3 separate regions of the Homo sapiens genome follow, and all the other regions are linked to region 1. Evidence: fine-mapped expression QTL. A gene starts in region 1. Each other region holds a variant in brackets. All regions are shown on one strand. Distances are from middle to middle. Region 1 holds the start of BLMH (bleomycin hydrolase). Region 2 overlaps TMIGD1 (transmembrane and immunoglobulin domain containing 1). Region 3 overlaps CPD (carboxypeptidase D).

Region 1 (8,315 bases):
CAAACTCCTGGGCTCAAGTGATCCTCCCGTCTCAGTCTCCTGAGTAGCTAGGTCTAAAAGTGTCTGCCACCACATTCAGCTAATTTTTTATAAAACTTTTTCTTTCTTTTTTTTTTTTTTTTTTTGTAGTGGTGGAGTTTCACTATGTTGCCCAGGCTGGTCTTCAACTCCTGGCCTTGAACTCAAGGCAGGAATCCTCCCACCTCAGCTTCCCAAAGTGCTGGGATTACAGGCAATATTTTCTTTTTTAATATTAGAGACTTCATACTAGAATTCTGTTTCTGGTTGCTTTGTCCCACGAGGTGTCACCGGGCTGTACAACATCTCTTCTGGCTGGAATAAGAAGGATAGAACACAGAATTTTCTTCTTGGAGAAATGTCTTCCTGGGTAGGTCATTTGGGGGTAACCCACTGGGAAACCGGTTTTATTCTGTACCTCCTCACCATGCCCATATGGGGGCTGAGTGCATGGGTGTGAATTGCTGGGTGGAAATCTGGTAATAAGGGTGCCACCCTGATGATGAGGACAGAGCAGGAGGCCAGCAAAGAGATGATGATAGAAATCTCTGGGCATGGGGTGGAGAAATGTAATCGCCAGTATGGAAAGGGTGGCAATAGCTGTAAAACTGGTCCCCTCCACCTTCCCCAGTGATTCCATCTCCTCCTGAGCTCTTACTCTTGCAATTGTATCCTCTCTGACACATATTTAATCTCTCATCTGTACTGGTTCCTTCCTCTCATCCTCCAGTAGACACAAATTTACCCTTTCTCCCCAAAGAGCTTCCCTAATATTTACCTCCCTCTCAACTCATTACGATGTGGCTTCTGCCCACCCTTCCCTTCCACTAAAACTGCCCTCTCTAAGGTTGCCTGTAACCCAGTTGCCAAAACCAATCTTACTTGACTTTCTGCAGCTTTTAATTCAATTCACTGTCCTCTCCTTGCCTTCCTGGGATTCCAGGACATAACTCCCCGGGTCTCCTACTTCGCTGACTGATCTTTCTATTTCTGCTGGCTCCTCTGTCTTCACCCATACTTTAAACATTATCATTTTCAGAGCTAATACTACTCCCATATGGCATCCTTATAAGAAGTTGTGAAAGGGGCCAGGCGTGGTGGCTCATGCCTTTAATTCCAGCACTTTGGGAGGCCGAGGTGGGCAGATCACGAGGTCAGGGGTTCAAGACCGGCCTGGCCAACATGGTGAAACCCCGTCTCTCCTAAAAATACAAAAATTAGCCGGGTATGGTGGTGCGTGCCTGTAATCCCAGCTACTCAGGATGCTGAGGCAGGCAAATTGCTTGAACCCAGGAGGTGGAGGTTGCAGTGAGCCGAGATTATGCCACTGCACCCCAGCCTGGGTGACAGAGTGAGACTCATCTCAAAAAAAAAAAAAAAGTAGTGAAAGGTACATCATACTCTGTGCACAGCCTGGGCCAGGGTGCATGGCTTGGCAAGCAGAGCCTGGACTGCATTTTAGTCCCTACTCACCACACTCAGCCTGGTGCCCTTGTGCCATGAACACCCTGTGCAACTGCACATTGCAGCCCAGGGCACTATCTGTGGTCTTCATCTCTTTATTGCTCTATCCTCTTTCCCTCTGTAACCCTGCTGACTTTCATTGTTCCACCTCGAACCTATGTGTCTCATCTAATCTCTAGACATCTTTTCATCTACGTCCTGAACTTCTCTTCCTGGGTGTCCTGTGGGGCATCCTAATTTTGCTATGGCCCAAACTCAGTTCAGATCTGCACACTTGCAAATATGCAAATATGCCTATTTTTCTGTATGCCCTCTCTTGGTTAATGACACCACCTTCCATCTTCTTATTCCGCTGAAAACTTCAAGATTATCAATGCCTCTTCCCTTTCCGCAATGTAAGGCTTTTGTCCTCTCCCAAGTTCACTACTGGAAGAACCTTCTAACCAGTTTCCCTATCTCCAGAGCCCCTCCCCTCCAAATTACTCTCCCCACTGCCACCAGGTTTCTTTTTTTACACAGACTTGAGCATATTTTTCCTTTGTTTCAAAACCCATTTTGTCTTCTAATTAACCATAAGATAAAGTCCAGATGCTCAGGCATTGAACATAAAACCCTTTATATCTTGGCCCAAACCTACAAAACTTTTCCAGTCCTACACCTTGCCTCTGCTCCCAAAACATGCCTTGCTCTTAGCCACATCCGATTATGATGCACCCTTTCTTGAACATGATTTTATTCACTGCGCCTTCGCTGGTGCCTTGAATGCCCTTCTCCTGTTCTTTGACTTGTAAAAATCTCATCCACTCTTCAAGATCATGCTCTCTTGTCACTTCTATTTTCAGGCACCCTTTGGCCCTAATTGACAGTGCTCTCCTCATTGCTTCTACAGTCTACAGCACTATTGGTATGCTACTACAGATAGTCTAAAAGTTGTTTTGCATCTCTTTCCTACTACATTGAGTTTCTTAACGGCAAGATTAAGCTTTGTTCGTCTCTATGTCATCAGCAGTTTGTCCAGTGCCTAGTACATGTTAGATACTGAATAAAAATTTATGACTTGAATTGGGCAGGATGCTTGAACATCATTTTGTGAAAGGACCAGTGATTTCTTTCTGTATAATTTTCAGCCTCTTCTTTTTCAGATATTGAAAGAACCTCAGAATAGGATGGTTGATGGGCCCACTTAAGATAGTTGCTATGTTATAGCCCCAATTTTTAGCCGAGTCTCTCTAGGGACATAGAAACCGTGCTTTCTCAAATGACTGATTGGTGCCTGAGTATGGATTTTTCCAGATATCAGAGTTCCTTAGAACTGCGATGATTTTCAATCTAAGAAGACCTAGATTCTAGGTTACACACACACACACTCAACCTCATCGTTTTGAATAGCAGATACAGGGTTTCAGTGTTTTTGTTTTACTCTCTGTGGGTTCTATCCCAGCATCTTACTAAGGGCTGAGATTTCAGGGCATGAAACACGGAATCAACAAAAACAAGGTTTTTACAATCTCAAAACTTTGGGAAACTGTTGAGTTATCTTGAAAGCCTAGAGGGGGAGCATCAGTTAGTTTTGTAGAGAACTCGGCGAAACAATATTGATGCATACGGCTAGCCTCTGTCATCCTCCTGAGTTAAACCCAACGGGACATGCTGGACTATACAGGAGCCACTCGTGGACTCCGTGAAGACCAGATGGGTAGTGTTCTTGAAATGAGCAGATGTCTATTTGTAGAACTCTGGTAGTAGCTTTGGAGTGGGTGGGGAAGAGCTTGGTTCCCATTCCCCCTCAAAGACAATTATTTGCTTCTGATGAGAATCCAAGCAACAAGTTGCCATTGAGAATGCAGTGATTGGTCAGCAAACGAAGCCTATAGGAAGAGCCTTCGGGTGCATTCCTTGTGACATATCGACCCGTCCTAAGCCCGACGCTTAATTATGGGACCTCTCAGCTCCTCCCTCCCGCCTCGAGCTCCCTTTTGGCTTCTCACAAGGCTTCCTGGGGACGATTCCCCGATGCTAGAGTACTGGGGGTCTGGGCCCACAGGGAACCCGTCAGCCTCCCTCCTTGGAGCGGGCCTGATCCCGGGAGGGCGCCCGCGCGGCCCGGAGGCGGGAACCTAGGGGGAGAAGGCGCCGGCGCCGCCCTGGCGCGCAGACCATCTGTGCGGTCCTGCGCGGGGGCAGGCGCGGCCTCAGCCCCCGGGCGCTGGCGGACCCAGCGCGTCAGCTAGGCCGCCCCCGTCGGCCCTCCCCCGGGCGGGGCCAGCCCCGACGGCGCTGACTCAGCAACGCGAGGGGGGAGTTTTGTCCCTCCGCGGACCCCGTTTCTCCCAGCCTCAGCCTCCCCGCCGCCGCCGCCGCCGCCGCCGCCGAGCCGGTTTCCTTTTTCCGGCGCTCCGGGTGCGAGAGACAGGTCGGGCCCCCTAGGCAGCGAGCCGCAGCGCAATCCCGGCGCTCGCCCAAGGACCCTGGAAGCTACCGTTACCCCGCCGGGCAGCGTGGGCGCCATGAGCAGCTCGGGTGAGGTGCCGCCGTCCCCCGCCGCGGTCCTCTGGAGGAGCTCCGCGGTCCCCGTGAGGCCCGGCGGCGGGGAAGGCCGGGGGCTGGGACCCTTGGCGATGGCGGGGAGGGAGCTTTCGGGGCAGGCTGGATCGGCCTGGAGGGAGACAGCTCCTTGGAGGAGGATGCCGCTTATGGGTTTCCCCGCTGCAGCGGGCACCCCAGGATGCGCTTACGAAGTTAGATTCGGGACGCGGGAGCCCCAGATCAGCCCTTTCCCCCTCTTTTTGCGTTAAAATCCTGTTTGGTCTCCCAACAGGACTGAATTCGGAGAAGGTAGCTGCTCTGATACAGAAACTGAATTCCGACCCCCAGTTCGTACTTGCCCAGAATGTCGGGACCACCCACGACCTGCTGGACATCTGTCTGAAGCGGGCCACGGTGCAGCGCGCGCAGCATGTGTTCCAGCACGCCGTGCCCCAGGAGGGCAAGCCAATCACCAACCAGAAGAGCTCAGGTGTGGGCTTCCACTTCTCCCATACGTTCCTTGACCTTCCTGACAGCGTCCCATTTTGGTGTCTTATTTAAGAGTGGTCTTAAATTCGTACTGAAAGAACTGGTCGTAAATTCGTAAAGAATGAGGCACAGGTACAGGCAGGTCTAAGAACATTACCCATGTGGTTTGTTTTGCTGTTCTGTGGCTTGTTAGTACATGCGGTTAGAGTACAAAAGTGACATGTCCATGAGTATACGTTTGAGTGTAATTGACTATATTATGTTCCAATGCTGTGTGGTTTGTAGCCCGTGTCTTGGAGATGTATGGTCTTGGTCACAAAACAGAACATGTGAAAATGTTCATATCTTTGGAGGACTCCCCAGAAATGCCCTGAAGGCCCTATACTATGAAATAGAAAAGATACAATGTAATTACATTAAAATGTCATCAGATGTTACTTTTAAATATGCTTCTTGGTTACAACTGAAGCTAATGTGCTGATGGGCTCAGTTCCCACCAGTAGATCAGTTTGTAATACAGAAAAAAGTTCTGTTCTCATGCCTTGCTGGTCAAGAAGTCTCGTTTTGCTATCTGCTTTCTAGCACCACTCTCAGAAAAAACAGGTATAGTGAAAGATTGGATATCCAGCAATCTAAATAAGGAGCACATTCTCACAACAAAATTGTACTAAACGGATTTTTTAAAGTCTTTCTATACTTAAAAACGACCCCCCAGTCTATCTATACGGACAGGAAGCACATCAGTGCTTGTTTAGAGTCGGTTAGAACTCACAAAGCACACATTTAACGTGAGTACATTTTATTGTATGTACATTATACCTGAATAAAGTTGATTTTTTAAATGTTAAGGAAAAAGTCAAGACCTTACAATAATTAATGTTTTGCTTTAGAAGAAAGTGCTTGGAGTGGTGTGGGCTCTCAGGCTACAGATGATCCAGTTAGTAATGTCACAGTGGTCCTACATAGTTTAGATTGCAGTGACCCGTTAGGGAACAGGTCAGGTCTTACACATTTTGCAGTGTCACTTTTACATACAAAAGATCCAAATAGCATGTGAGTTGTGTAGTTTATTTTCATGCAGTTTTCACATCACCAGTGCATCCAGATCCCCTCTACTAGAAATATATAGCATATAGAAGAGAGGTGACATACAGGTAAATGTAAGGTAAAGACGAACTAATAGGCACTAGTGACTTTCATAAAACACTATAGTTAACTAGAGTTTTCTTCTTGTTACAAAATTATTTTTGTTTAATGTAGAATATTTGTAAATACCAAGTAAATATTTTTCTTGTATATTTGTCAAGTTTTGTGTGTGTGTGTGTGTTTAATAGTGTTTAATATGCATTGATACCTTATACATTGTTATGTAAGCTACCTATCTTTTTCACTTACCAATATATTATAAACATATTTTCATATTAGTAAAAAGGTTATACCCAATACAAGTCAAAGTTTTTCCCTCAGAATTTTCCCTCAGAAAAGAGATAATTTCCCTGTATTTAAGACCTTAAAAGACTTTTCTAATGGCGCTCTCAGTTAATTTATTTTGAAGTAGAGTACAATTTGGAGAAGGCATTACTCTGAAAAATGGATTCTTTATTTGATACGTAAAGAGTGTTTTTGTGTTAAAGATATTAAACCTTTGCATATATATTGCTAATAATAATTACCACCTTTCTTGTTTTGTTTTTAATCTTTCTGCTCTTTCTGATTTACTCTTTCTGAATTGTCCAGATCGTGTCATGAGTTCATTGGTGGGAAATACAGTTGGAGCAGTGCAGTCTATGTGAACCCTCATAATTTCTTGATGTGCTTTCTTGTTTCAGGGCGATGCTGGATCTTTTCTTGTCTGAATGTTATGAGGCTTCCATTCATGAAAAAGTTAAATATTGAAGAATTTGAGTTTAGCCAATCTTACCTGTTTTTTTGGGACAAGGTATGGGACAGATCTGGCAAGATTCTTTTTGTATTGATATCAGCCTTGGTAGGGACTGCCTCTTCTTTTGTAGCTTTTCCAGTTATAGCCTGCCCTTTCATAATAGGTGAGACACCTTTTATTCTGACTTCCAGAGTATCAAAAGTTGACTCTTTCAAAGGCAGAACTGTTTTTGGTTGGTAGGTGGCCATTTTTTTGCAATGAAATAAGTTTACTGACTCATCTTACTGCTTGCTTGTCTATTTAAAATTTTAAATTTTATATTCAATATTCAATTCAATATATCTCCCTTTTTAACATCTTTTTAGGTTATTTGTTCTTTTCTAGGACCTAATTTCCCTCTCAAGAACTTGTCTGAAAAACAGTAAATAATTTTATTTGATTGTTTATTTGTTTATTTATTTTTTTGAGACAGTCTCACCCTGCCACCCGGGCTAGAGGGCTGTGGCACAGTCTCGGCTCACTGTAACCTCTGCCTCCTGGGTTCAAGCCATCCTCTCAACTCAGCCTCCCAAGTAGCTGGAATCACAGGCACATGCCACCATGCCCAGCTAATTTTTGTATTTTTAGTAGAGACAGGGCATTTCACCGTGTTGGTCAGACTGGTCTCGAACTCCTGACCTCAAGTGATCTGCCTGCCTTGGCCTCCCAAAGTGCTGGGATCACAGGTGTGAGCCACCACTCCTGGCCATATTCCATTTCCTAATCTTCAAAATGTATATTACTGACCTGGTTTGGTGGCTCATGCCTGTAATCCCAGCACTTTGGGAGGCTGAGGTGAGAGGATTGCTTGAGCCCAGGAATTTGAGACCAGTCTGGACCTGGCGAAACCCCATCTCTACAAAAAATACAAAAATTAGCCACGCGTGGTGCACACCTGTCCTCCCAGCTACTCAGGAGGCTGAGGTAGGAGGATTGCTTGAGCTCAGGAGGTTGAGGCTGCAGTGAGATTGCACCACTGCACTCCAGCCTAGGCAACAGAGCATGACCCTGTCTAAAAATAAATAAGTAAATAAAATATATATTACATAGGTGTTCATTAAATGTTTTGTTTTAGCATTGGAATGTAAACACTGTACACATATACACAATATATTGGGATACATACACAGGTAAAAGAAGAAACTTCAGATATTCTGATGAAGTCAGATACTGATGTTTATTTACCAATTTTAGTTTAAAAATACTTATTATGGTGCTTGTTTCAGCATCGTAAGTCCCCAAACTGGGGTGATACAGAAAAGATTAGCATGGCCTCTGTACAAGGATGACATGCAAATTCATGAAGGTTTCATGTTTTTAAAAAGAAAAAAAACTATTATGTTGATTCCATGGTAATTCCAAGACTCCCATTCTGTTGATAATGCCAATAAAATTATTGACACTTTTTTCTTTTAATGTTATTTAACTTTCTTTACTCTTTAGGTTGAACGCTGTTATTTCTTCTTGAGTGCTTTTGTGGACACAGCCCAGAGAAAGGAGCCTGAGGATGGGAGGCTGGTGCAGTTTTTGCTTATGAACCCTGCAAATGATGGTGGCCAATGGGATATGCTTGTTAATATTGTTGGTAAAAGTTCTTTCTTTAATGGAACTGAAACTCAGCATGATTAAGTAAGCCTGTAGTTAGGCATGGGCCAATTCTTTGGTGGTTGTGTACAGAGTAGAATTGGTCTCCAAGAAGGATATATAGTTATTTCTAAGGACCTTTAGTTCACATTCTCACCTATAAAGTGCCTTCTTAAATGAGGATTAAGGAGAGAGCTACTGTGAAGGATGGGTTGGAGAAGAAAAGGTAGTATTAAGGAGAACTAATTTTCCATGAAAAAATTGTTTTCTTCTCCATTGATGTAATCAGGAAACACATTAAAACTGTAGCTGT
Region 2 (8,315 bases), 32 kb before region 1:
TAAAATCAAAAAAGGTGAAGCTTTTCAATGATTGGGTTCCAGGTATTGGTAACCCATTGGTAGAACTGTATAGGCTTAGGGGACTGTCAAGTGATACAATGTAGATGATCACATGGGTTGTTGGGTGAAAAGCTGGTTCTGCATGAGAATGGTGTGGATGGTATGGCAATGGGTGAGGTATAATGATGCAGTATGATTTGGTAGAAAGACCCTATCTCTACAAACATAACATAGTGAGACCCTATTTCTACCAAAAAAAAAAATAAGGTGTGTTTTTAATTAGCTGGGCATGGTGGCACACATCTGTAGCCCCAGCTGCTCGGGAGGCTGAGGCTACAGGATCTTCTGAGCCCAGAAGTTTGAGGCTTCAGCGAGCTGTGATTGCGCCACTGCATTTCAACCTGGGCAACAGAGTGAGACCCTGTCTCAAAAAAAATAAAATAAAATAAAATAAAATAAAAAGCCAGCTAAGGAAACTAAGGCCCGGACTAGGGGCTCAAATCATAGGTGCAGCTGAGAATAAAACACTAATTCCCAAGCTTCTAACCTAGTGCTTAAGTGCTTATTCCACGAAACTTTTTTTTTTTTTGAGACAGGGTCTCACTCTGTCACCTACACTGGAGTGCAGTGGCACAATCTCAGCTCACTATAACCTCTGCCTCCCAGGCTCAAGTGATCTGCCTGCCTCAGCCTTCCAAGTAGCTGGGACTACAGGCGTGCACCACCAGGCCGAGCTGATTTTTGTATTTTTTGTAGAGACGGGGTTTTGCTATGTTGCCCAGGCTGATGGAACCCTCTTAAGGGAGACATGGCAGAAATGCCAACAATGTGATTTGATGACTTAAAGAAATTGTTTTCAGTTTTCTAGCCTCAATCCACTGTTTAAATTCTGTTTATAACAATCTCCTAAATATCATTGTTGCTAAGTGTGTGTGTGTGTGTGTGTGTGTGTGTGTGTGTATAGTTAATTGCTCAGTAATCCATAATGACAGTACTGACACAAAGTCATCAACCAATAAATCAAAATGAGCTCATAAAATGTGACAAGGATATTATGTACCCTTCAAAGGCAGGACCATTATTGTTATAAATAGCAGAATCAAGAACTAAATGGAAGCTTGATAATACACTGTTTGGGGGAGAATGTGGAGAAACAGGTCCTCTCATACCTCGTTGCTGAAAGTTTAAATTGAGAACACCTCTTTCAAAATACTTATCAAAATTTAAAGTGTGCATATCTTACGACACACCATTTCTCCTTCTAGATGTTAACGTTGGAGAAATACATGTACAGGATCATAAAGAGATATGTACAAGGATGTTTATTGTAGCATTGTTTAACATTTTAAAATGAAAACAACCTAAAGCCCATCAAAACACAAATGATTAAAGGCATACATTATACTATAGCATTCTAAAAGCAATAAGCTAGATCTCTGTGGTTCAATATAAACATATCTCAAAAACATGCAAGTTACTGAGAGAAAGGAAGTATTTTATGTAAAACCTTCCCATGTCCCTAAAATAATATGATATATTTCCTATGGGTACACTATATGTATAGAAAACTATTTAAGAAAAAAGAAAGATAGGGAAGGATTTACACCAAACTCATAACAGTGGGTATCTCTGGGGATCAGGAAGTGACCAGCTTGGATCTTAGCTTTATCTAAAATGTACTAATTTTTACAGAGGGGATATTCACATATACTGATATGCTTAAATTAATTTCAAATAGTTAAATAGAAAGAAATCACTAACAGAATCTGTCCACAAATGGAATTGTTCCATTTGGCAATTATGTTCTCTATTCCAGCAGCTTCCTTCCTATCTGAATACCATATAACATCCTTGTTGGATATGATACAGAATTCGAGCTCATTCCAAAGAGCAACAAAATGTCATTCTTCTGAGAGAGTTATTAATAACACAGCCTACTCAGGGTCTAATTATTCAGTGTGCAGATTATACAAGCTCCTTTTTCCTCCTTCTCCGTCTCTATCTTTTTCCTAGTTCCCACTCTCCAACCATTTCATTACTATTCTGCACTTCTGCCAGAATATGCACAGTGATAGATGTGTTGACTGTCTATGGGTCTACAACTGCCCTTATTGTAGAGGAAAAAAGGAGTTGCTCACACACAGGGATGAGAGGGACTCACTTGCCTTCCACAGATGCCAGAGTTCTCATGCTTAGAACACCTTCTGGGAGGAGGACATTATTTCTAGAGCACCACTGAGAAAACGCAAAGATGCATTGGTGAATATGTTACCAAGGCAATGGTTCGATAAAATGCAAAAACAGACGGTGAGAGTAACCCTCAAAACCACCACCACCGTAATAATAATAGCGGCTAGCACTGTGGCAAATTCTTTACAGGGATTATTTTATTTAATCTTTACAGCATCTCAGGAGATGTATGATTATCCCATTTTTTTTTTACATGAGAAACAGAGGCCTTAGCAGTTAGTTAACTGTCTCAAAGTCACAGTAAACGGTGTAGATGGAATTAGATCTAATTGCAATGTATGTCTTCTTAATTTTGTACTGTTTTGTGCAACACTAGCACAGGTTGGTTTATTAATTCTCAGAGAAGAAAGACTCAAGGCTTATACTCTTGGGTAGTGTTACAAATTGTCTGCTTGTCATAGATCATTACTATATATATCATGCTCATAATCATATATTGTTTCATGGTTTGTCTTCTTCATCACATTAAAAGTTCTATGAGATTTGGAACTGGAAGTGTTATTTGCCCTTGTTACCCCAGTGCTTGTCACACCGTACGTATTTAATAAATTTTTGTCAAATGAATAAATGACCACATGAGATAGATTGAAGGAAGACTTTGAACTCTGACAGTGAACTATTGCTTATCTGCTAATTAAATCTAAATGCTTGAGTCTTGCAGTTCCTCCTCTCCTAAGTGGAAACGACTTCCAAACAGTTGAGGAAGGCAGTAATGTGAAGTTGGTTTGCAATGTGAAAGCCAACCCCCAGGCTCAAATGATGTGGTACAAAAACAGTAGTCTCCTCGATTTAGAGAAAAGCCGTCACCAAATCCAACAGACAAGTGAGTCTTTTCAGCTGTCAATCACCAAAGTCGAGAAGCCTGACAACGGAACCTACAGTTGTATTGCAAAGTCATCTCTGAAAACGGAGAGCTTGGACTTTCACCTGATTGTTAAAGGTAATGCTCTTTTTAAGTAATACCCAGCACAGTGCAAAACTCACACCAGATGCTCAGTGAATATTTCTGGTGACAATAAATGATAATAACGGTTATGATTAGGGCCAGGATTTTCTTTGGAGAATCATCCCCATCCAAGGATTTTTCCACTAAGAATCCTAGTCCATCCTTTCAGGGAAATCATGCCCATTCCATACAGGACACTGTTTTTTGAGCAAGAATCCTTTCTTAGAACCAAATATAGGAAACAATCCTGCTTGGCTTTTAGGGAAGAGTATTTCCATGAATTCTCCTGGGCAACAATGTGTGTAGCAACTGGACTTTTGAGTTCACAGCTTCATAACTAACAGAAGTAAAAAACACACAGAGAAGAGAAATTAGGACTAGATAAGAAAATGGATCCCTACAATCACTCCTAACTCAAATTCTAACCTGTAGGGTAATCAGCAGAGAGAGTAGGAAAAAATAAGGGGACAAAAAAGCCCTTTCTCTTGGATTCATGCTTCATCTACCCAGGGTTATCACCTCTACAATGACAGAACAAATGATGCTCTGTGGGGTTTTCCCTCCTCATATTTCTTGCTCATACAAAAAGAGAAAGGCAAAATACCTGGGGTAGCAGATGCCAAAAATGCTCATTCACACATGGTCTGCTCTCATGCTAGCACACCAGGAGCAGCCCAACAAGCTGAGACTCCCATATCTTGTTAGAACATTACTCACTTTGTCATTTGCCTCCCTGTACTCACTTATTGCCAGTCTTGTCAGTCACCAGGAAGCCAGCTGAACCCCTGCCAGAAGTGTTGTGGTGATGTAACCATAGGACATCTTATTTGCTTCCCCTTGAGGGGAAGAGTTATGGGATATGAAAAGAGTGGCTAGTGGGGAAGAAGACTTACTGGTGGTTGAATGCCCATCACTGTGATTCCTGGAATGATCAGTAATTCGTCCTGCGGAGCACTAACAATTGCTCAGGGGCTACTTGTTTTAAAAACCAAACCCACAAATATCCTGAATACCCATGAGATAGAAGCAGTGAAAAAGCTTTGTGGTTATTTACCTCCCCCAAGACCACAAAAGCATGGAAGGGTGGGCCTCATGCCCTGCCATCCTGACTATGAACACCACACTTGCAGGCCAGGGAATTATATCCCTCCTGGTTAAGAAGAAATCATAATTGCTCTGTGTCACATTAAAAAAAAGTACAGCTTATGTGGCAATCAGGATGCTAGCTTAGCAAATTGGCTTTCAGGTGGGCAGAAACTTGTTTTGGGTGGGGCTCTTCCAAACCAACTTGTTTTTCTTATTTCTTCTTGCTTAGCTACTTCCCACGGCTGGTGGCATAAATGCTCTGCTGCTGGGGCTTGGGCTAAATGCCAAGATTTTCATGAGCCCTCACCTGGCTTCACGGCTCAGTGAGGAAGTACCTAAATGAGGCCATGCAAAGCTACAAACGACATCACAGATCTTTTCTTGAGCACAAGATTTAGCCCATGTGTTGGGATTATTTAACCATGATGAATATAGGAGGGAAATATCAGGTCTGGTTACAAATGAGACCATAAAACAGGACAAGGGGAGAGGGGCAGTTATGTAATTACCCTTGCCAAAGTCTCTTTTTTCTTTCTTTTTCTTTTATTTTTTTGGAGACAGGGTCTCGCTCTGCCACCCAGGCTGGAGTGCAGTAGCGTAATCATAGTTCACTGCAGCCTCATCCCCCCAGGCTCAAGCGATCTTTCCACTTCAGCCTCCTGAATAGCTGGGACAGGTGCGTGCCATCAGAACCAGCTAATCAAAAAAATTGTTTTTGTAGAGA[G/T]GAGGTCTTGCCATGTGGATCAGGCTGGTCTTGAATTCCTGGGCTCAAGCAATCTGCCACCTCAGCTTCCCAAAGTGCTGGGGTTACAGGCATGAACCACCATGCCCCGACCAAAGTCACTTTCAACAGAAATTTGGAATCCAAAGCAAGCCAATGGGTAAGGTAGTTTACTTCGGTTTGTGTATAGAATAAGAGCTGTCAGCCAGGTGCAGCGGCTCACGCCTGTAATCCCAGCATTTTGGGAGGCCGAGGCGGGTGGATCAGGAGGTCAGCGGTTTGAGACCAGCCTGACCAATATGGTGAAACCCGTCTCTACTAAAAATACAAAAAAAATTAGCCGGGCATGATGGTAGCCACCTGTAATCCCAGCTACCTGGGAGGCTGAGGCAGGAGAATTGCTTGAAACCAGAAGGCAGAGGTTGCAGTGAGCCGAGATCGCACCACTGCGCTCCAGCCTGGGCAACAAGAGTGAAACTCTGTCTCAAAAAATAAATAAATAAAAATAAAAAAATAGAGTAAGAGCTGTCACATGTGGCTTCATTTTATCTGGCTTGGTAAAAATATTCCAACCTGTGACTGAATTCTGATTTCTTTTTCTTATTGTCCCACCTTTACTTCCCCTTTGTTTTGATATCTTGCAAATAGAGGGGCTCCCCAGTAAGGTTGACGGGCCTTTGGTGTGTCCCAGAGCTGGCTAGTACAGAACCAGGGCTTACTAGAAAAAGGCTCCCTGAGCAAAGTTTCTCCATAGGGGTGATATGACCCATACCTTCATGAGAATAATTTTTAGAAACAGCTAAGAGAGGGCAAAAATTTAATCCATTTATTTCCCAAAATTATCCAGAGCAGGAAATGATAAAAAGGTAGTTACAGGCTGGGTGGGATGGTTCATGCTTGTAATCCCAGGACTTTGGGAGACCGAGCGGGAGGGTTGCTTGAGCCCAGGAGTTCCAAAACAGCCTGGGCAACATATTGGAACCCTGTCTCTACATCAAATCAAAAAATTAACTGGGTGTGGTGGCACGCACTGGTAGTCTTGACTACTCAGGAGGCTGAAGTAGGAGGATCTCTTAAGCCCTAGAGGTCGACGCTGCAGTGAGCCATGATCATGCCACTGCACTCCAGTCTGAGTGACAGAGTGAGACCCTGTCTCCAAAAATAATTATAATAATAACTGGTTAGTGTGTTATACAGTTATGGGGACAGGGGAGATAAACCCTATTTCATAATCTTAAGGTATATAGGGATTGGGCTTTGAAATTAAATTTACCTAAAGTCACTTCTTCCCCTCTTCCCTGGTTTTTGCCCTTCACTTGCTAACTCATGACCCTGTTTCCTTTCTAATACTTAATCTGTAGTGTCTGTTTGTTTAATGTCTGTCTCCCTCACTAGAAGATGAGCTCCACGAAGGCAGAGGAGCCTTCTACACCTGTCCTATTTTTTGCAGTGCTGAACACAGTGCATAACACACATTAGTCACTCAGTAAATATTTGTTGACTGCACCTCAATCCATAAACTCAATTGTGCGATAAATAGCACATGCTCAATTTCCTTTAAATGCCTAAAATGTTACTTAAGCCATGACTGAAGCTCCTTCCCGTCGTTGGATGGCATCAGAATCCAGGGGCTTAGACAAGGTCACTTTAAAACCTTTGTTGAACTGAAGCACTTTTACTTTGTTACTTTTTTAAGAAACGGGGTCCTGCCAGGTGCAGTGGCTGATGCCTGTAATTGCAACACTTTGGGAGGCCCAGGTAGGAGAATTGCTTGTGGTCAGGAGTTCAAGACCAGCCTGGGCAACATACCCAGGCTCCATCTCTAAAAAAAAAAAAAAAGGGGTTGGCCAGGCATGGTGGCTCACACCTATAATCCCAGCACTTTAGGAGGCCAAGGCAGGCAGATCACTTAATGTCAGGAGTTCGAGGCCAGACTGGCCAACATGGCGAAACACTGTCTCTACCTAAAATACAAAAATTATCTGGGCATGGTGGTGTACACCTGTAGTACCAGCTACTTGGGAGGCTGAGACAGGAGAATCGCTTGAACCCAGGAGACAGAGGTTGCAGTGAGCCGAGATCAAGCCACTGCACTCCAGCCTGGGCGGCAGAGCGAGATTCTGTCTTAAAAAAGAAAAAAAGGGTCTCACTATGTTGCCTAGGGTAGAGAGCAGTGGCTATTGATAGGTGCAATCATAGGGTGCTATAGCCCTGAACTCCTGGGCTTAAGCAATCCTCCTGCCCCAGCCTCCCAAGTGTCTGGGACTACGGATATGCCACGCTGCCTGGCTTTCACTTTTACTTTTGAGAGTTTCATTCCATATCATATCAAAGATATTAAAGCAAAGCACATTGTATGTGCTTTCTGCTATAAAATTTTTGAAAGAATTTTTATAACTTGTATAGATTTTGAATTTTGTTATAAATAAGTTACTCATTTGGTTCTTGAGGTTTAAACATTATTATTTAACAGTTCGGTTAGAGTTGATGCCAGGTTGCATTTTACAGATGCTTAAACATTGATTAATTTTGATTAATTTTGCTACTTTCTTTTCATATCTTGGGGCCAATCATTTTTTTCTGGGTCTCAAATATTTTCAAAGGCTCTTAGAAAGCTTGCAAACACAGGCACTATGCCTATAGTGACTGATAAATAAAGTAGCTCTTGGCCCGGTGCGGTGGCTCATACCTGTAATCCAAGCACTTAGGGAGGCCAAGGAAGGCGGATCACAAGGTCAGGAGATTGAGACCATCCTGGCTAACACAGTGAAACCCCGTCTCTACTAAAAATACAAAAATTATCTCGGTATGGTAGCACGTGCCTGTAATTGCAGCTACTCGGGAGGCTGAGGCAGGAGAATTACTTGAACCTGGGAGGCAGAGATTGCAGTGAGCCGAGATTGCACCACCGTACTCCAGCCTGGGCAACAGGAGCAAAACTCCGTCTCAAAAAAAAAAAAATAGCTCTCAGTTGACCTGGTGTTTAGAAAATAAAGGGGTAGGCTTTCACTTCCAAGCTGTCATGGTTGCTGCTGATCTCTTCCTAGTCCAAGTTAGAAGTAGGCTCTCTCTCTTTGCATGGCATTTAGAGAGATGCAGAAAACTTTGCCAAGGTTGGGAAGGCTCATGCTTAGAGTCCTACTTCCCTAGAGACACTATGCAGCCACCTACCTTCTATAATGTCTTGTCACCTGCTTGGGGCACCATTGCAGTACAGGTACAAGGCTCCCCACTGCTTTTGAGGCCCACAGACCTCTCTCTCCTTCTTAGTCCAGAAAGCTCTCCACCCTTTCTCTTCTTGCTCTCAAAGCC
Region 3 (8,315 bases), 100 kb before region 1:
GGGAAGAAAAAGCCTCAACCAGGTCTTTAATGTGCAAGATCAGGTAAGACCAAAAGCACTTTACTAATGCACATTTGATTATCAACTGTACCTTTAAAATATGATCAGGCTGAGAATTAATATCTGAATTGTTGGCATTCCTTAAGGAAAACATCCCAGTACGAAATGCATTCACTTTAGAGGTAAAAAAAAAAAAAAAAAAAAAGCACCCATCTGTTCATTTATATATATGTTCTGGTTGAACTTCTAGCTCCACGCAATTAAATTATGCCAGAAAACACTATTAATTCAATTTTCAAAATCATCTACACTGCCATATGCTTTCCAAATGTCTCAAAACTTCTAAATCTCTTTCTCATCTTGACCTCTCTCCCAAGCTCTAGAACCTATTCCCTAACTGCCCATTGGGTACTTGTGACTAGTACATCAAGTACTATTAATATTTCCAGTTTTCACTCCTCTTTCACCTGAACGAACACACACACACACACACACACACATACACACATGCTCACTCGCTTGCTGTCTCCCAATCCCCACCATCCAATTAGTTTTTCCCACTCCCATTCTTTCTAATCCAAGCTCAAAATCCTCAAAGTCATATCTTTGACATCCTCTCTTTGACATTCTGTTCTGCTATTTAAACGATGGTCAATTCTGCAGTTCTTCTTGCATAACTTCTTATATATGTATCTTATACTCCCTTTTCATTCCCCTACATGCCCTCTAGGTAAAGCCCTTATCTCCAAAGAGACCTCATCCCAGATGACTGTAAACACCTCTCTAGTTTTCCCTCCTCTAGGACTCTTTCCTGCCAATACATTTTGCACAAAGATAACTCCAAAACGAATAGCACTACACTGTCCTTATCATCAAAGAATTCACACACTAACAGGAAACAAAAAAACTATTAACAACATAAGTGGATAAGTATTATACTGATGGTACTGTATAAACAAAAAGCTCTCGAAGGTAGGATAGTGACAGTTATTATAGGAGAGGTTTCAGAAGAGGTTACAGCTAAACTGGTGAAAAGCACTTCAGACAGAGGATAGCCTAACATGTGAAGGTTCACATTTGGGAAGGACAAGTAGTCCGGTGGCAGAGGAGAGGTAGGAGCTGAGGCTAAACTTATAGGCTTGAGTCAGACTGTGGGATCTTCGCTCCCATGCTAAGAAGTATTAGACTTGATCCTATGAACCCTGTATTATAAGCTTTTTTTTTTCTTTTTTTTTTGACACGGGTCTTCCCCTGTCAAAAAAAAAAAAAAAAAAAAAAAAAAAAAGGCTGGAGTGCAGTGGTGCAATCATAGCTCACTGCAGCCTCACATTCCTGAGCTCAAACTATCTTGCTGCCTCAGCCCCTCAGCCTCCCAAGTAGCTGGGACTACAGGGGTGCATCACCATGCCCCACTAATTTTTGTATTTTTTAAGAGATGAGGTCTCACCAGTTGCCCAGGTCTTAAACTCCTGGCCTCAAGCAATCCTCCTACTTCAGCCTCCCAAAGTGCTGGGATTACAAGTGTGCTCCACTGCTCCTGGGCCTATTTTACCTGTGTATCTTTGTTGTTTAGTTTTTAATATATAATCTTAAAAACAAAGTAACACAAGCGCTAACAGAACCAGATGCATCTTCCCTAAGCGTGACAGCTGGTTTCTTAGTCATCCACACCTCAAATTAGTAAACAGACTCTGCAGGAAAATTAGATATAAGGACAGTATTCTGTACGCGTTCATTAGGTCAGATTGGTTTATTTATGTTATTCAAATCCACTGTATCCTTACTCACATTTTTGTGATCTAACAGTTATGATCTCTATGACCTACTAGTTCTGAAAGAGGCCTATTTTAAACTTCCTACTATATTTATGGATTTGTCTGTTTCTTAATATCAGATATTGTATTTTTATAGTTACATACTGTTCATCTTATTCCTTTTTGTTTTAGATTACAATTTTCTGGTGTTACTGGGTTAATTCATAATATCCTATTTAATGACACAGAAAATACTCCTCAAAAATAAGCTTTCTGGTCCATTTCTGGACCAAATCTAAACTTTCAACAGCATTGTTGAAAACAGGTGGGTAATTATTTTCCCCATGCTCTTCCTTTTCCATCAACAATCTACTTCCAGCCAAACATACTTCAATATTTAAAGCACACTGCTACTGCTCAGTCTGACCTCCAGTTTGGGGAAAGAATAGTTGTCTGCATGATAAAAGGAGTTGATATTCACACAAAAAACTGAATTGGTTACATTATATGCTTTCTGGCCACATTTCATAACTCTGTCCATTGTATAAAAGGAGAGGGAAGAAAATTTGATAAATCCAAAGAACAGTTTATTCTTCTTCCAGAGGAGAAAACAATCATAATTACTAGTTTGAAAAGGCTCAGCCTCAAGTTTATAGTGGCTTAAGAAGACAAATATAAAGCTTTATGGCAGCTGTCCTAACTAATAATAGAATCCATAGACTCACATGAGCAATACATAGGCCTGACAACTATATTTCTGACCAATTTCCTAACTCAACACTCATTCGTATTTTAGGGAAAGCAATCTAAAAGTAGAACATCTGAGATAAATATCTGTGGCCCAGTCCTCACTGCAAATAACTGAAACATATAAACAAGTTGGGAGGAAAAACCCAAATAATAAGTTATCACACACAACTTGTAAGGTGTTTTGTTCCTACTTAGAATTTGAAAATAAATGAATTCTACCACAGGGTGATCAAGAATAGTGTTTTTTCAAACTGAAGGTCATCATGCATTAGTGGGTTGTGAGATATATTAGTGGGTTCAGACATATTTTTTAAAGAATGATATAGAACAAACTAAAAGAAATAATACCAGAATGTATAGTAAAAGTATTGTTCCATGAAATTTTTTAATGTACACACATATATATGAAATGTACATACACAACTAAAAGGTATTTCATATTATAGGTTAAAAGTAAGAAAAAAAAGTTCAAATAATACTGATCTAGGATCTACCAGTAAGGCAAGCTTATTTACTCAGAGTAGGAGCAAAACTAGGAAGAATATTTTTATAAATTGTTATAAGATTAACTAAAGATCTAAGATTTTAGGCCGGGCGCAGTGGCTCATGCCTGTAATCCTAGCACTTTGGGAGGCCGAGGCGAGCAGATCACCTGAGGTCAGGAGTTAGAGAGCAGCCTGGTCAACATGGTGAAACCCCGTCTCTACTAAAAATACAAAAATTAGCCAGGCGTAGTGGTGCATGCTTGTAACACCAGCTAACTGGGAGGCTGAGGCAGGAGAATCGCTGGAACCTGGGAGGCAGAGGCTGCAGTGAGCCGAGATTGCGCCACTTCACTCCGGCCTGGGTGACAGAGTGAGACTTTGTCTCCAAAAAAAAAAAAAAAAAAGATTATCCAAAGATCAAATAACTATGTATTTATGTTTCGGATGGCAAAAATTCATTTATTCCAAAAAGACTATTATTTACCTTATATATACCAGGCATGGTTGTGTGTGCTAGAAATAGAAAATGGAATAAAACAAAGTCCCTATCTTCAAGAGTAAGTTTAAACTCTAGTAGATATAAGTAGCCATGGCACCAGATGCTAGGCTAAAGTGCTTTACACACATTCTCACTTGAGCCTCCTAATCTTGTGAGTAGATAGTATTTATCTTAATTTTATATAAGTGGGAATTGAGGCTTAGAGAAATTCATTAATTTGTCTCTCACCCACACCACACACACACACGCACACAGCTAGTCAAGGCAGAGTTGTGATTCCAACCTAAGGCAACGGGATTCCAAAGCTCTCTCTTTGCCACTACATTGCACTGCCTTCTACTGTTCTTCTATCTGCAAGAAAATAAAATATAACAATGTTCTGCCCAAGAAAACTTCTAAAAGTTACATAAAACTATGATCTTTGATCAAATAATTTCAACTATACGTTGCCTGCCCTTCCTTAAATTGTATAATTTGAAAGAAGGCAATTCTTTTTTGTCTGTTTGTTTTCTTGGAGACAGGGTCTCATTATTTTGCCCAGGCTGGGCTTGAACTCAAGATCCTCCCGCCTTGGCCTCCCAAGTATCTG[C/T]GACTACAAGCACACGCCATGGCTTAAAAGTTGACCTAAAACTACAGTTCAGTTTTTATTAAATCTGCTTTGGAATAAACATACCAAAACATCATATGATTTTTACAATGTCTTCAAAACTGTGAAGAAAGAACGGTAGGCAAATGGCATACAAATCAGCGCACTGTGATTAAAAAAAAAAAAAAAAAAAAAGGCGGCCAGGCACGGTAGCTCAGGCCTGTAATCCCAGCACTTTGGGAGGGCGAGGCAGGTGGATCACTTGAGGTCTGGAATTCAAGACCAGCTTGACCAACATGGTAAAACCCTGTTTCTACTAAAAATACAAAAATTAGCCGGGCATGGTGGTACATGCCCGTAACCTCAGCTACTCAGGAGACTGAGGCACTAGAATCGCTTGAACCCAAGAGGCAGAGGTTGCAGTGAGCTGAGATTGTGCCATTGCACTCCACCCTGGGCAACAAGAGCGAAACTCCATCTCAAAAAAAAAAAAAGGCATCTTACTCCATGAACAAGTCCAGAGTAGGTCTCACAATAACGAGGCTTTGGAAGGGGATGTGGCTATTCATCAGCCTTATTAGGATAGCCATTTCCTAAATGGATCCTGAGGTTTGTGAGACATGTTGAATGAAGCAAGGCTCACCCACATAGGCAGCTAGATATGCTGGGCCAGCCCTGGCAATGAAGGCAAAGGCACTAGGGCCCAAATCACCCCAGATTCCACACTACTAATATACTATCTGATTCCTCAGAGCAGGAGTTGTTTCTGTTTTGCTCTCACTGTATACCGGTACATCACCTAATACAGTATATGTGGCACGGCAGGAACTCAGTAAATATTTGCTATATTAATACATTATATTGCACAAGTTAGTTCCTCTCTCAGGCCTTGATTTTCTCTAAAACAAAAGGGTTGGACTAAATCAATATATTCACTTTCAGCTCTAAAGGTCTATACTTCTTTAAGCTAGAATTCCTAAATATATCACATAGAACATCAGTAAAATTACTCGGCTGAGCATGTGGCTCCCGTTTATAATCCCAGCACTTTGGGAGGCCAAGGTGGGCAGATCACTTGAGGCCAGGAATTCAAGACCAGCCTGGTCAACATGGTAAAACCCTGTCTCTACTTAAAATACAAAAAATTAGCCAGCATGGTGGCACACACCTGCAATCCCAGCTGCTCAAGAGGCTGAGGCACGGGAATCATCTGAACCCAGGAGGCAGAGGTTGCAGTGAGCTGAGATCACGCCTGCACTCCAGCCTGGGCAACACAGCAAGACTCTGTCTCAAAAAAAAAAAAAAAATTACTCCAGGACATCCGGGTTTTTTGAATATATGCCTAGTCACAAGGTTTCACAACATCTTACTCACTAAACACAATGAATTCACCCTGTTGAAACTAAAACCATCACAGCCTCCTCTTCAAGGGGAAACTGCTCAATATTTGCTGAGGTACGAAGAGAAATAAGCCAGTTATTGTAGAAATAACATAGGACATATCCGACATTCAGCTGAAACAAGAGAAAAGTTGATGCTCATGAAAATAAAAATGACAGCAGCATAATGTAGCTTCTTCAGATGTCTGAATAATCAGAAAAATCTGATGATAACTAGCTTCACCAAATAATCTCTGGCCTTAATACCAAAGTACACCTACGTTTTGTAGAGGCCGGATATTTATTTTTTAAGTAGTATGAGATACATTTACCTTCCTCAATTAATTGTCAGTTAGAAATTACTTTCTAACCTTTTACAACTTTTTCCAAAAAGGCAAAGTTAAGTATTTACCCCATTATTTTAAGTAACATCATCTCAAATTAATGAAGCAACTTGACTAGATTACAAAACCACCAGTTCAAAGTTAGGTTTTATTAAATATATTTCCCAAGGACTGAAATGTAAAAATTACACATTAAAGTAAGTCCATTATCTACAAAAAAATTTTTAATGATTTTCAAATCACCTCTAATTGTTATGGGGAGAAGGTTTCACTTCTAAATAGTATGTCAAACCTCTTTTTGAATGCTTCTGATATACAAGAAACACTGGTAGAAACTATAGGAGGATCAGAAAATTCTAGAAAGTGATAGCAGCAGCAGGCCGGAAGGTGCGGGAAGGAGGCGGACAGCCACCCCTTCTGCAGCCACCCCCCACAGCCCGCTGCCACCCCCCAGAGCCCGCTGCCCTGGGGGCTGCCGTAATGGGGTCAGGCCCAGAGCAGCACAGCGGGGGAGTAATGTAGTCAGGCAGAGAGGAACCCCTATGCGGAGCTGGGGCTGTGCTTCGGGGGCGGGGCGGAAAGCAGGAGCTGCTCCAGCTTTGGGGATCTGGCCAGAAGTGCAGCCACTGCGCCCACCCCACTAAGGGTCCCGGGTTCCTGGGCTCGGGAGGAGGCTCTGCGCGGGCCACTTGGGGCCAAGTCCCCAGTGTCCGCCACACGTGGGGTGACCTCCCAGCCTGACACTCCTGACAGCCTGGCCCCAGGCCCGCAATCAGCTCCGGGCCACTCCTTAGCCCCAGGGCAACAGGGAAGCTTGTGGCAATGTCGCCCCTGGCCCAGACACTGGCCCAGGCCCAGCGAGGATTAGGAGCCACCCGCCACAGGCTCCCAGGGGGCACGGCTGGGGCTGCATGCTCCACTGAGTCGGCGGGAGCTGGGAGCTGGCAGCAGCTGCGTCCCCCGACCTCCTAGGCCCCCCTTACCCTTGCAGGCTTGGAGATGCCTGCTCCTGCTGCCTGGCCTCTCCCCATTCTTGCGTCTGCTCCTATCCGGGATTGGGGTTGGAGCTGAGGCGGCGCACTGTCACTGCCCGGAGGGGTACGCACATGCTTGGGCCCTGTTGCCTGGGCCCCCACCGGACTGGGCACTGACAAGCATGGAAGAGGGAACCAAGGTTGGGGACTGAGGGCGACTCAGCACTGGCTTGCAGGTGCCCCTTAGCACGAGCAGCCGGGGTGCCATGGAAAGCAGCAAGAGGCAGACTAGCTCCTGGGTATAAGGGAGGGGGTCCCTGGTGAGGCCCCACCTTCAGGCCAGGGAGGTCCTGAAGGCTGGGGGCCAGGCTGCCAGTCCCATAGACTGGAGTGGGGACTTGTGCCTTTTCCAGGCTGCCCGTGGCGCCCATGAACCAATCGGCATACACTTCCTCCCCTCTGAGGTCCATAAAAGCCCTGGGCTCAGTCAGAGCAAGGCAGAGGATGGAGAGATGATGGGACAACCAGAGGGTAGCTCCTCTCTGCTGAAAGCTGAAGCTGAACACTCATCAGGATGACCTGCCTGTAGAGAGGGGCCACCCACTCCAGGGTTCCTTTGTGCTGAGGGCTGAACACTTGACTGGGTGACCTGCCTACAGAGAGGAGATGCCCACTGCCGGTCTCCTCTGAGCTCAATAAAGCTCCTCTTTGTCTTGCTCACCCTCCACTTGTCTGCATACCTCATTCTTCCTGGATGCAGGACAAGAACTTGGGCAAAGGCACCACCAGGCACAGAGGTTTCCAACCAGAAAAGCAATACCCCAAAGATCCAGTAACGAAAGTATTAAATTCTCAAACTTATGACCCATTTTGGGTACATATGGCTTGATATAAAAAGTAAAAGAGTAATTCAAAGGTTTAAATATACATTAAGAGACATGTCATAAGACACTTTATAATGTGACTGCCAATAAAAAGGTAAGGAAGACCTAAGGCATTTCATCATGGGCAGACTCCTAGAAAAGAAAAAATTTACACTGATGACATTTCCATTGGTTGACTTATTCCTTCTAAGTTCCCTCTACATCTACATCTGTGCATAAAAACAAAAACGTTATTATTCAAAGCATACCTAAAGTTTAAAAAGAGTAATAGCTGTTTTCATAGCATTTAAAGAGAAAAGGTAAACAGTTCAAGCTTGTATTAACAATTCTTGCCAGGCACGGTGGCTCATACATAATTCCAGCACTTTGGGAGGCTGAGACAGGTAGATCACTCGAGGTCAGGAGTTCGAGACCAGCCTGGCCAACATGATGGAACCCTATCTCTACTAAAAATACAAAAAATTAGCTGGGCCTGGTGGCAGGCACCTGTAATCCCAGCTACTTGGGAGGCTGAGGCTGGAGAATCACTTGAAGCCAGGAGGCGGAGGTTACAGTGAGCCAAGATCATGCCACTATACTCCAGCCTGGGCAACAAGAGTGAAATTCCATCTGAAAACAACAACAACAACAACAAACAATTCTTTAAAAAATAACATTTCA

What was found.
Region 2: its variant is fine-mapped to the expression of BLMH in whole blood (INTERVAL, PIP 0.99).
Region 3: its variant is fine-mapped to the expression of BLMH in whole blood (TOPMed, PIP 0.91).

Annotation. Positions count from the first base shown.
Region 1 is chr17:30,287,494-30,295,808 of GRCh38, reverse strand. BLMH (bleomycin hydrolase) reads left to right here and starts at 3,865. Exons shown (of 12, transcript NM_000386.4): 1 at 3,865-4,002; 2 at 4,301-4,498; 3 at 6,327-6,436; 4 at 7,862-8,003. The coding sequence starts at 3,990. It overlaps LOC124903971 (a long non-coding RNA gene), which reads right to left and starts at 1,119. Exons shown (of 2, transcript XR_007065700.1): 1 at 269-1,119. It also overlaps the pseudogene RNU6-1267P. RefSeq lists silencers at 3,455-3,864, 4,065-4,134 and an enhancer at 4,585-4,644.
Region 2 is chr17:30,319,691-30,328,005 of GRCh38, reverse strand. TMIGD1 (transmembrane and immunoglobulin domain containing 1) reads left to right here. Exons shown (of 7, transcript NM_206832.3): 4 at 2,912-3,190. Among named protein-coding and RNA genes, the nearest start is that of TMIGD1, 10 kb to the left of the region's middle. The variant G/T (reference allele first, on the strand shown) is at 5,007.
Region 3 is chr17:30,387,087-30,395,401 of GRCh38, reverse strand. The region is part of intron 2 of CPD (carboxypeptidase D); the gene reads right to left. Among named protein-coding and RNA genes, the nearest start is that of CPD, 12 kb to the right of the region's middle. RefSeq lists a silencer at 637-931 and an enhancer at 6,690-7,375. The variant C/T (reference allele first, on the strand shown) is at 4,078.